Linked DNA regions of Homo sapiens: region 2 is linked to region 1. A link means that fine-mapping ties the variant in region 1 to the expression of a gene that starts in the linked region. Tissue or cell type: esophagus muscle. Region 1 holds a variant in brackets; the other region holds the start of a gene. All regions are shown on one strand. Distances are between the middles of the regions. Region 1 overlaps OSBPL6 (oxysterol binding protein like 6). Region 2 holds the start of CHROMR (cholesterol induced regulator of metabolism RNA).

Region 1 (5,000 bases):
TTGCTATGAACATAAAATACCGCACAGTAACGGACGGAGTCTTGCTCTGTCGCCAGGCTGGAGTGCAGTGGTGTGATCTCAGCTCACTGCAACCTCTGCCTCCCAGGATTTACATATTTTCTATGTACATGAACTGAATTATTATAATCAGCAATATCAGTGAAAGGTGGGTGGTTTGGCCTTGAAGACTTTTCTATGCTGTCTAGGGTTCTATAACTTGAGATTTTCAGGACAACTGCAGAGTCCAGGGTGAGAAGAGCGTGAAGTCATAGCCATGTTCCTTTTCTATATTATCAGAAAGCTTTTGCTAAAAGGCCATAGAATGGAGGATGGTAACTGGCTATTCTCCGTCTATTTTGAGAACAGGCTGAGAGGGAAGGAGCTTTCCTGTTTTACTGGAGAGGGCAAAACTGATGAGAAAAGAAAAGGTAATGGGGAAAATTACAAAAGGCCACAGAATGTGAAATGAATAGTAAATGAAATTCAGAAAAGGAACACTGAAATAGAATTGAGAAGGAAAAAGCAGACTGAATGGTGACTTACAAATGCTTACATTTCAAAATGAGAGCAAAGAACAGGAATATAATATGCTATACATTGTACAGGAAGTTTATTAATAAATTTGAATGTCAAATAGCAAGACAACATGTTCTAGAGAGAGAGGGCAAAATAGAAGAGAATTAAATAGTGGAACATTCAAAACTGAGAGCATTTTGGCAGATGGCAGATAAAGCCACAAATACATGGGAAACAGAAAATTGATCTTGAGTGGAATTTGTATGGCATATAGAATTTTTGGGAAAAGTAAAATGAATTCCATAGGAATGGACATCATGAGTTCAGAGCTACATAAGAATAAAAAACTAAGAATCAGAAGGTATTAAAGGTACTGTATTTTGAGTATATCTCATACTCTGTGGGATCAAAACCACATTGGGCAAATTGCAGACTTGCACTCAAAGCATTTCTGAGTTCCCCTGTAACTTATCCTATTATTCTTCAGTTTAAAAGATACTCCATGTTACAGAGTTATAGAAGTAAAAAGGTCAGAAACACTGGGTGAGGACTGATTATATATTTAAGAAAGAGTTCACAAATTTACAGACCTTTGGTAAATTTTAGGGGGAGGGAGAAACTTTGTTAAAAAATATCTCTGTTATCTTATCTTCTGTGGGGAACTATGTGCTGAGATAATCTGTTATGATCATTCTATGAATACTGCTTTTCCTGGCATAGAAAACTCAAATATTGCTGAGTGAATAAGGGAATGGAGAAAGGATTGAATAAAAATACATGATGGTAGTAAAAATAAGTCACAATGACCTCTAAAGCCCCAAGCCATAATAGTCTGCCTTTTTTTTTTTTTTTTGCCAGGGTCTCTCTCTGTTGCCCTGGCTGGAGTACAATGGTACAATCATAGCTCACTGTGGCCTCAACATCCTAGGCTCGAGCGATCCTCCCACGTCAGCCTCCCTAGTAGCTGGGACTTTAGGCATGCCCCACCACACCCAGCTAATTTTTAATTCTTTTTTTTTAGAGATATAGAGTCTCACTATATTGTCCAGGCTGGTCTTGAATTCCTGACCTCAAGTGATCTTCCCTCCTCAGCCTTCTAAAGTGCTGGGATTATAGGCATGAGCTACTGCACCCAGCCATAGTCTGCATATTAAATACCACTGCCATCCTCACCTTTGATCTGGCCGGAACCGGGCGTCTGTTGGTGGAAGGAGATCTTTTAGTACTGGATCTAACTCATTGAGCTCAATAGCAAACCTTGTGAAGCCATAGTACAGCTCATAGTTTGTTGGCATGGAACCTGGAAAGAGGCCAATGAACCACTGTGAGAGGCAGAAGGTTTATGGAACTGGAAGAAGCTGACTTACCCTAGTACTTAGTACCTACACTAACACCAAATTTGTAGTCATAAACACAAGATTATAGATTTTTTCAAGTGAATTAAATTGGTGGTATTCCTAGGTAGGAAACTTTGTGTTGATGATCAGAA[T/C]TGACAGATTCATATATTTAATACAATCCTGTCTTTCAAACAAAACTGCACATATAGTAGTCTTCATTAGCTAAACTACTCCATAATATTTCTCTTGAATATTCAATTGGTTAACTAAATACTATGGCAATTAACTATGAACATTAAGAGTACACCAGAAACACTTGTTTGCTTCCTTTTAGAAAAGAAAAATATGCAGACCTAAATTAATATTTTTTGCCACTTTTTAACTAAACTTGAAGGCAGGATCTTTGTATGTCTTGCTCATTGACGTATCCCGAGCTCCTGGAATAAAGCCTGATGTACAGCCAGCACTCAATAAATAGTTGCGGAATGAATAAGCTAGCCACTCTACTAGCGGGAAATTTAAATACTCATTGATGTCTCTTAGGAAACTAACAACTAATTTTAGTTAGGGATTAACTGACAAAATTCCAGTGACAATAAATGTCATGTGGATACTTGTTCCATTTATACTTGATATTCAATCATAAGCTAATGTGTTATCAGAACTCTTTTGATGTCTTTTATTAAATGTCAACATATTGCTGTCTCTTGAGGCTCAAGTGAAAAGATTACTTATTCTGGTGAGTTATTGAATTTGTGGATTACAAATGTTTGTAGTCTTTGTTTTATTAAAGCAGAGAATAAATAACATGAGTAAGGTTTTAAGTTTGTATACTTCAATTATCTAAAGTCTTTAATAAATATACCTAGCTTTTCAAATGTAGGCATTACACTTTGAGCAATTTTTCATGAAGCCCAATCTCTGACTGCCTGTCAGAGATTTGGCCTACATTCTTTATTATGAAATATCAAATATTGGGGCTTATGTATAACTTCTATGTTAAGTATGAATGTAACTATAATTGCCATAAGCATCTACGCTTTTAATCTCACTCTTAAAGGAAACATAATGTGAGTTGCATAAGATGACCTGATGTTCTCTTCCCTTCTGTTGTCCATAGTGCCCTCCTGTTGGCAGAACACTCAGGCCACTCTCACCTGGTCTCCAAATGCACTTTGCAGAGGGGGCCACACCACAGTAGAGTCCTTCATGCCACTTTCCAAACAGCCGGTACACCGCCTTCCCCTCCTGATCTATCACCACCCCCTGGACTTCATTCATGTTAGAATTCCAATAATTCACCTGGAAAAACCAAACCCCAATTGTGACATTTGATGGCTTTAATAACATCATTCCCTGTATTTTCCATATAGAAAAATTTCTTAGCCTTGAAGTCCCTTATTCAAACCATTTTCAGAAATACAGAAATCTCAAAACGTTTTATATGGAGGGCTGGCTTTCTAAGAGTTAGCTTAACTTTCAAGAAAGGGATGGTCTCTATTCCACGCATAACATGGTAGTATATCACAGAGAAGGCTCAGCTTCTATCCCAAGAACCTAATATTAATTTCTAAGCTAGCAATTTTTTTTCCTCTTGTTTTGAATTTTCCTCTTGCTCATGGATTTTAATAAATTTCAATTGGCCATGCTGCAGAAATTGTTTGTGAAATAATTTTCATAGTATCTATAAATGGCCAAATTTTATGAGGAGGGCCCTCAAGTGGCCCTTCCAGCCATACTCCTTCCCAAGGGATAAGAAGTCTATGGGAGTTTGCCTACCCCATGATTCCCCTTCCAGATCAGGCCCCAAGTATACAGGACCCTAGAATTCCTTGTCCAAGTAGCTCCAAGGTTATTCCACAGCTGGCAAGGCCCTTTTCCTTGGATTCATGCACCCAAGGGCAGACCACCCACCAGCGTGTGCACCTTTAGGTCTGAAGAGTGGCCAAGGGTGGTTGTTTGTGGGGGTGTGAACAGAGCTTAGATGTGTGGGCTGGCCTGCCTGTATATGTGTGTATGAGGCCCCTTGCAGTCAAAACAGAGCCAGAGGTGGGAAGAAAGTAGGGAAGGCCGTGGGCCAGGACTGGCTGTCCTACATTGCCAGGGTTACAGCACAGAGTTCTGAAGGGTCCAACCTGGCCTCACAGGCTTTGTTATAAAAAGTGTATTTGTCAAGGCAAAGAAATAGAGCATATTCTATTTTATAGCTTACAGACTTGATTTACATATTTTAGTTAATTATACAGGCTCTGCAAGTGTTAGAGACAGGACTGCACTGCAGCTTCTCATAGCCTACAAAGCCAAATGTACATATTTACATCATCACCCAGCCAGAGCACATAGTGATCTTGGCTCTTCAGTTCTAGGTACCTTACGAGTCTCTAAGAAAAAAGGTAGTGAAAACATTTTGGGCTAAAATAAAGACACTCAATTAAAATAAATACAACCTTCCAATATGGCTTAAAAGGATTTAACTGAGAAAAGAAAATATTAGAGTCTTAAGACTCCAATATGTTACCTGTTTACCATATTAGAATGGGATCATGAATTGAACAGGTATGGTAGCTGGGTGGGGTTTCTATACTATGTTGAATTCTGTAGCACATCCAAACAAACACGGCAGTGATACTGAATGTTCCACTTCAGACCAGAGAAACTGAGGGAAAATGGTGCTTTTTGGGCGTTTCTATCCCAACATATTTTCTTGTTAATGAGGCTAATTTTTCCTGTTGAACTTATTTGAATTATAACAGTGGCAGGGTTGGATAAGCATGTACTGACTGGTGGTGATCATCTACATGACTACATCAAGTGTCTTCAGAAAATGACAACATTATAATGAGTTCCCGAAATTCAGATCACTTGAACACATATCAAGCAGGAAGAGAAACAGAAATATAAACCAGAAGATTTATAGTCAAGAAGTGTTTTCTGGAATTTTACTTAGTGAACAACTGACTGGCTACTTCAAAAGAAAATTCTTTAAAAAGACATGTGTTTTTTTTCTGTTTTAGATGATGCCTTTTTTGACCTCCATATGTTCAGAAACTTGCATGCCTTGAGAAACTCTATCAGTTTGTTCTGCTTTCTTATCTAAAATGTCCGTAAGGACCAATGATACAGGACAGATTCACTTGCTGCTATTTA
Region 2 (5,536 bases), 22 kb before region 1:
TGTGACCTCTGGCCCTGCTTTTATATGTAGGGTGTATGTGAACCCGCATAGTCACTAGTAGGAGTATTCCTAGAAACCATTCCAGTAGTGGTATGACCATTACTTAACTATACATGGATGTGACTACAAACCACATACATATATCCCATTAAACCCAAACTCAATGTAGTCTCAACTCAATTTATCCCTTGGCCAAATCCCAGAAATGCCCGTGATCACTCCAAAACTTTAAAGTCGGGGGTTGTGCCTAGCCAGAGCAAGGAAGAGTATTGGGATGGGAGACAAGAGGGAAGTCAGAGTGGGAAGAGACAGCAGGTCTAACTGTCAAGGGCCGAGCTTAGTTCCAGAGAGTTGAGGTGCCAGAAGTCAGAAAAGCAGTGAAGACAATAAGCCAATATGAAAGGAAGGGTCAAGGCTTTAATCCCATGCTGTGATAGAATGGCACCAATCCAGGGTCAGGTGGATCAGCACAGCTTTGCTGAGAGAACCCTTGAACAAAAGGCTCCTGCAGTTTTATGGACCCAGGGCCTGGGATGAGGAGAAGGTGAAGGACTTAGAGTGGAAAAGTACTCAGTACTGAGTCCGAGTGGGGAAAAGTGTCTTCAAGCTTCCTCCTGTCCTCCAATAAGGAGATGTCTGCAGGAGTCCCTGAGGAAGCTCTCCCTCTACATAGAGACCTCCAAATGGACCCCATAATGACTTGGTCACTCTGAGTCATTGTTCTCTGGCATCCTTAATTCCAATATTCTTCACATCACATGAACTCTTTGAGCCTCAGTTTCCTTACCAGTAAAATGGGGATAAACTGCTCTACCTTCCTCTCAGGTTAGAAAGATGAAATGAGATAATAAATGTGCAAATGCTTTGAAAACCTTGAAGATGCACAAATGTAAGCCATTTTCTCCTTAAAAAGTTATGAAATTGAGGTGGCCAACTCTAATATAAAATTCCCTCTGTAACATTTCAACTTAACAGGCTTTAAGGGATCAGCTAAGTAAAAAGCAAATGTTTTACCCAAGCACAGGATTCCAAGGTTATTTATGGCATTCTCTGAATCTCTGTAGTACTTCCTATTGTTACAATCTGTCCTGCATTGTCTGATGATGGCCTTTTATCTTAAATGAGGCTGAGACTTTTTGTTACTATTACATCGGCACTGTCTGAAAAAATATAATGCAAACCATATACATAATTTAAACATTTCTAGTAGCCACACTCTTTGAGAAAAGAAACTGATTGAATTATATTCTATTTAACCTAATATGTCAAAAACATTATCATTTTAACATGTAATAAATATAAAAATTATTAAGATATTTTACATTCTTTTTTACATACTATGTCTCTGAAATCCAGCCTATATTTTATATTTTACATTTACAGTACATGTCTTTTTTTCCTTTTTTTCTTGGAGACAGAGTCTTGCACTGTTGCCTAGACTGGAGTGCAGTGGTGCGATCTCAGCTCACTGCAACCTCTGCCTCCTGGGTTCAAGCAATTCTCCCATCTCAGCCACCCACGCTCAGCTAATTTTTGTATTTTTAGTAGAGACAGGGTTTTGCCATGTTGGCCAGGCTGGTCTCAAACTCCTGGCCTTAAGTGATCCGCCCACCTTGGCCTGGCCTAGCTGTCACTGACTTTGTAAGGAGTTTCTGCAAATGCTTCTTCAGACTTTTCCCACGTTTTTTAAAACCCCTATTTATATTACTACTTAATGGCAATTTCTTCCACGGTCACAGAGAACACAAAGACCTTTGATTTGCTCTTTCCACCACAGAATATCACTCTAGGAAAGCATTCCATCATAATGTATATAAGGTGCCTAAACTGTGCTATAATCTTAAGCATTACAGGGACTCAGAATGAGGTCGTTAAAGCAGTGTTTTCCAAAGCGTGTTCCGCTGACCTAATCCCATACTCAGCGTATGCAACTTGATATTTTAATTTGTACCCTAGTGATCTAGTCTTATGCCTTCTGGGTACATATTGCATCATATCTTTAAACACATCCAGCTTCTAGAATGGTGCTGTACACGCAGGAGGTCGTTGAGCTTCACCTTCCTGCTAATGACAAAATCAGCAATTGCCTTTAACCACAGGAACTTCAGCCCGTTGGTCACTAGGGGGAGACACACACGTGGTGGGCCTCTCCAGGCTCCTCAAATCCCGCCAGAGTCGCCACTGTGTAGTCTGCCCAGAGAAACCACACCCAGTCTTAGGAAGAGGAAACTGACTGCCATCCATTTCACGCTACTGTGGCCGGCGAGCTCAGAGTGGAATCATTTGCAAGGCAGCTCCTCCAAGAATAACCAAGCCGAGATCTAGCTGATCAACGATTGAATTTAGAGTAAAACTTGACAGAATAAAACTCCCTTCGGTTTGTCCGTACTACCTGGGTTTGCAGAAATGCTTTTCCTTAGCATTTAATTTTGGGACCTGTAAATATAACTGCTTTTTAGATGCATTCCATAATCCTCAATTAACTTACTGCAGTAAAAAGATAATTAGGTTAATATAAACTGCTCCAAGGGGTTTCTGATCAGACTGAATTTTATTTCATTTGAAATAAGGTCGTTGTTTAATCTTGCAAGTTAAATAATCTTGATTTTACGCTGAATAGGGGCCTGAGATAGATGAAAGAAAATTTCCTTTTCATACATGTGAGAAATAAACTGTTTCTTACACTCATATTCACAAGTGTGACCGTTAGTCCAAGTTGAGGCAATTAACATATTTAGGAAGAAAAAAACTTCCTCACAGAAGGATTGGCATTGGCCCTTCTGAACAGTATTGCAAAGTCTGAAGGAAAAACCCTATTGACACCACTTTCTAGCCAAATGCTATAGGACGATATCAATACTTACTGTACTGAGTGGGCATTTATTTAGTTATTTCACAGTGAAGATATCTTTTCTGGAAAATTCCTCATAAGAAAACTGAAATTCAAGCTCCTGCTCGTTCTTCAGCCACCGCTACTCGTTCCTGCTTTTTGTGCCCATAGGTTCTTCTGCCCAAAACAAAAGCTGTTAAATCACCGCGGCGGCGCTGACGTCAGGGAGCAGGGCCGCGAGGCCCCACCAGGTCGCCAATGAAGCCTCCCCTCGGCTCTGCCGGGGGCTTTGCGGGGCGCATAGAGGCTCCCAGGCGGATAGAGGCTCCCAGGCGGAGGAGTCCGGGAACCCCTAAAGACCCTTTAGGAAGCAAGGTCCGGAAAACCAAGCACGAGCAAGAGGCCCCGGGCGGCTGTATCCCTGCCCGGCGAATTCAGAGGGAGCGGGCGCCGCGGCCACCCAAGAGCAACGAAGACGGCGGCGCGGAGGAGAGGATGGGGAGGGGTGTGGGCCGCCCAGAGGCGCGGAAGCTGGGAGCACCGCGCGGCTTAGGAACTAAAATAAATGCTTGTCTGAATCTGCCCCGGGTGGGGGATGAAGGAACAAGGGCTTGGGAGGAGACCGATACATTTTAGAAATTGCCGGTGGGGGAGCCAGGGGCGGTGGCTCACGCCTGTAATCCCAGCACTTTGGGAGGCGTAAGGCGGGCTGATCACCTGAGGTCGGTAGTTCGAGAGAGACCATCCTGACCAATATGGAGAAAGAAACCCCATCTCCACTAAAAATACAAAATTAGCCGGGTGTGGTGGTGCATGCCTGTAATCCCAGCTACTAGGGAGGCTGAGACAGGAGAATCGCTTGAACCCGGGAGGCGGAGGTTGTAGTGAGCCAAGATCATGTCACTGGATGTTATTTGTTAATTTTTTGATGTACACTGCAAGATCACACAAGAAATGAAGCTATTAAGCCCAGGTATTGGGCCTTTTATAGGGGTGTTTTTTCATGGTGAATGGGTAAATATGTCTCTACTTTGTGTGCTTATTAAACAACCCTGACTATGTGGTCTTGAAAGGAGAGATCCTGCCTTAGTTTCGCCTCTCATTAGCCTTATGTGAGAGCTTTTTTTCAGAGACAGGCAACCAGGAATATTTATTCCAGAAGCAGTCATTGCAGTGGAGAATTTGGGGTTTGAATCATAGAAGACAGAACTAGATAAAATCCTAGATGTTACCTCCAATCCCTTCATTTAAAAATTTGAGGTCACCCAGGCCAGGTGCAGTGTCTCACGCCTGTAATCTCAGCACTTTGGGAAGCAGAGGCAGGTGGATCACCTGAGGTTAGGAGTTCGAGACCAGCCTGGCCAACATGATGAAACCCCGTCTCTAATAAAAATACAAAAACTAGCTGGGTGTGATGGTGCACACATGTAATCCCAGCTACTAGGGAGGCTGAGGCAGGAGAATTGCTTGAACCCGGGAGGCGGGGATTGCAGTGAGCCCAGATGGCGCCACTGCACTCCAGCCTGGGCGACAGCGCGAGACTCTGTCTCAAAAAAAAAAAAACAACAACAAAATTGAGGTTACCCAAATTAAGAGAATTGGTAGTTAAGACAGACCAAGATTAATAACTTTTAGACATTTGTAGACCCTAGTTATTGGGGGTGCTAGACTCTTAACACTTTTCCAAGAAAAGGGGTAAATCTTGTGTTTCTTAATTCGGAAGGAAAAAAAAAATCTACCACTTGCAATTTGGCATGGGCCAGAGGCAATATTATCAGTTATATGCCTCTACGGTGTGATATTGAGTGATATACATGGAGAGAATATGGGCTACATTTTATGGTTTACTGTTTTGGGGAAATGAGGCCTTTGACATGCAGGGTAATTATTGCTGGGGACTCTGCTCAATAGGAGGCCATCACCTGGGCCCCATGCCAAAGGGAAAGCTTGTAAATTCCACTTCCCTGGAAGGCTGATAACGTGTAATAATCATGACATGGATTACTTGGTCCTGTTGGGTCCCAGCTTGTGAGATTCTTTCTGATCAAAGTTACCATCATGGGCAAACTGTGGTTAAATAGGCTTTAATCTCTGTGTTCATAAAGTTCTATTATCCTGGTCCAAGAGATTGGCAGTCTATAACTTCCTTTTTTTTTTTTTTAACACAAACATGAAATTAACACTTTTTGCTCTAAACTAATTAAAGATTCACGGGAAGTTGCAAAGGTAGTATGGAGATGTCCCTGTACCTTTCACCAAGTCCTTCAGTGGTTACATCTTACATAAATATAGTGCAATATCAAAACAAGGAAATTAACAATGGTACAACATGGATATAGATGTCATTTTTTTATTTAAAAATTTTACTTGTGGTAAAGTACACATAACATAAAATTTACCATCCTAGGCTGGGCATGGTGGCTCATGCCTGTAATCCCAGCAATTTAGGAGGCCAAGGTGGGGGCAGATCATGAGGTCAGGAGTTCGAGACCAGCCTGACCAACATGGTGAAACCCCATCTCTACTAAAAATACAAAAATTAGCTGGGCATGGTGGTGCTCACCTATAGTCCCAGCTACTCAGGAGGCTGAGGCAGGAGAATGGCTAGAACCCGGGAGGCGGAGGTTGCAGTGAGCTGATATTACTCCGTTGCACTCCAGCCTGGGCGACAGAGTGAGACTCCATCTCGAAAAAAAAAAAAAAAAA

The links.
Region 2: CHROMR starts here. The variant in region 1 is fine-mapped to the expression of CHROMR in esophagus muscle (GTEx, PIP 0.97).

The regions. Positions count from the first base shown.
Region 1 is chr2:178,389,228-178,394,227 of GRCh38, reverse strand. It overlaps OSBPL6 (oxysterol binding protein like 6), which reads right to left. Exons shown (of 25, transcript NM_032523.4): 22 at 3,011-3,155; 23 at 1,690-1,816. Among named protein-coding and RNA genes, the nearest start is that of CHROMR, 22 kb to the left of the region's middle. The variant T/C (reference allele first, on the strand shown) is at 2,006.
Region 2 is chr2:178,411,442-178,416,977 of GRCh38, reverse strand. It overlaps CHROMR (cholesterol induced regulator of metabolism RNA), which reads right to left and starts at 3,319. Exons shown (of 5, transcript NR_110204.1): 1 at 2,865-3,319. RefSeq lists enhancers at 1,828-2,402, 2,190-2,449, 2,951-3,150, 2,980-3,555.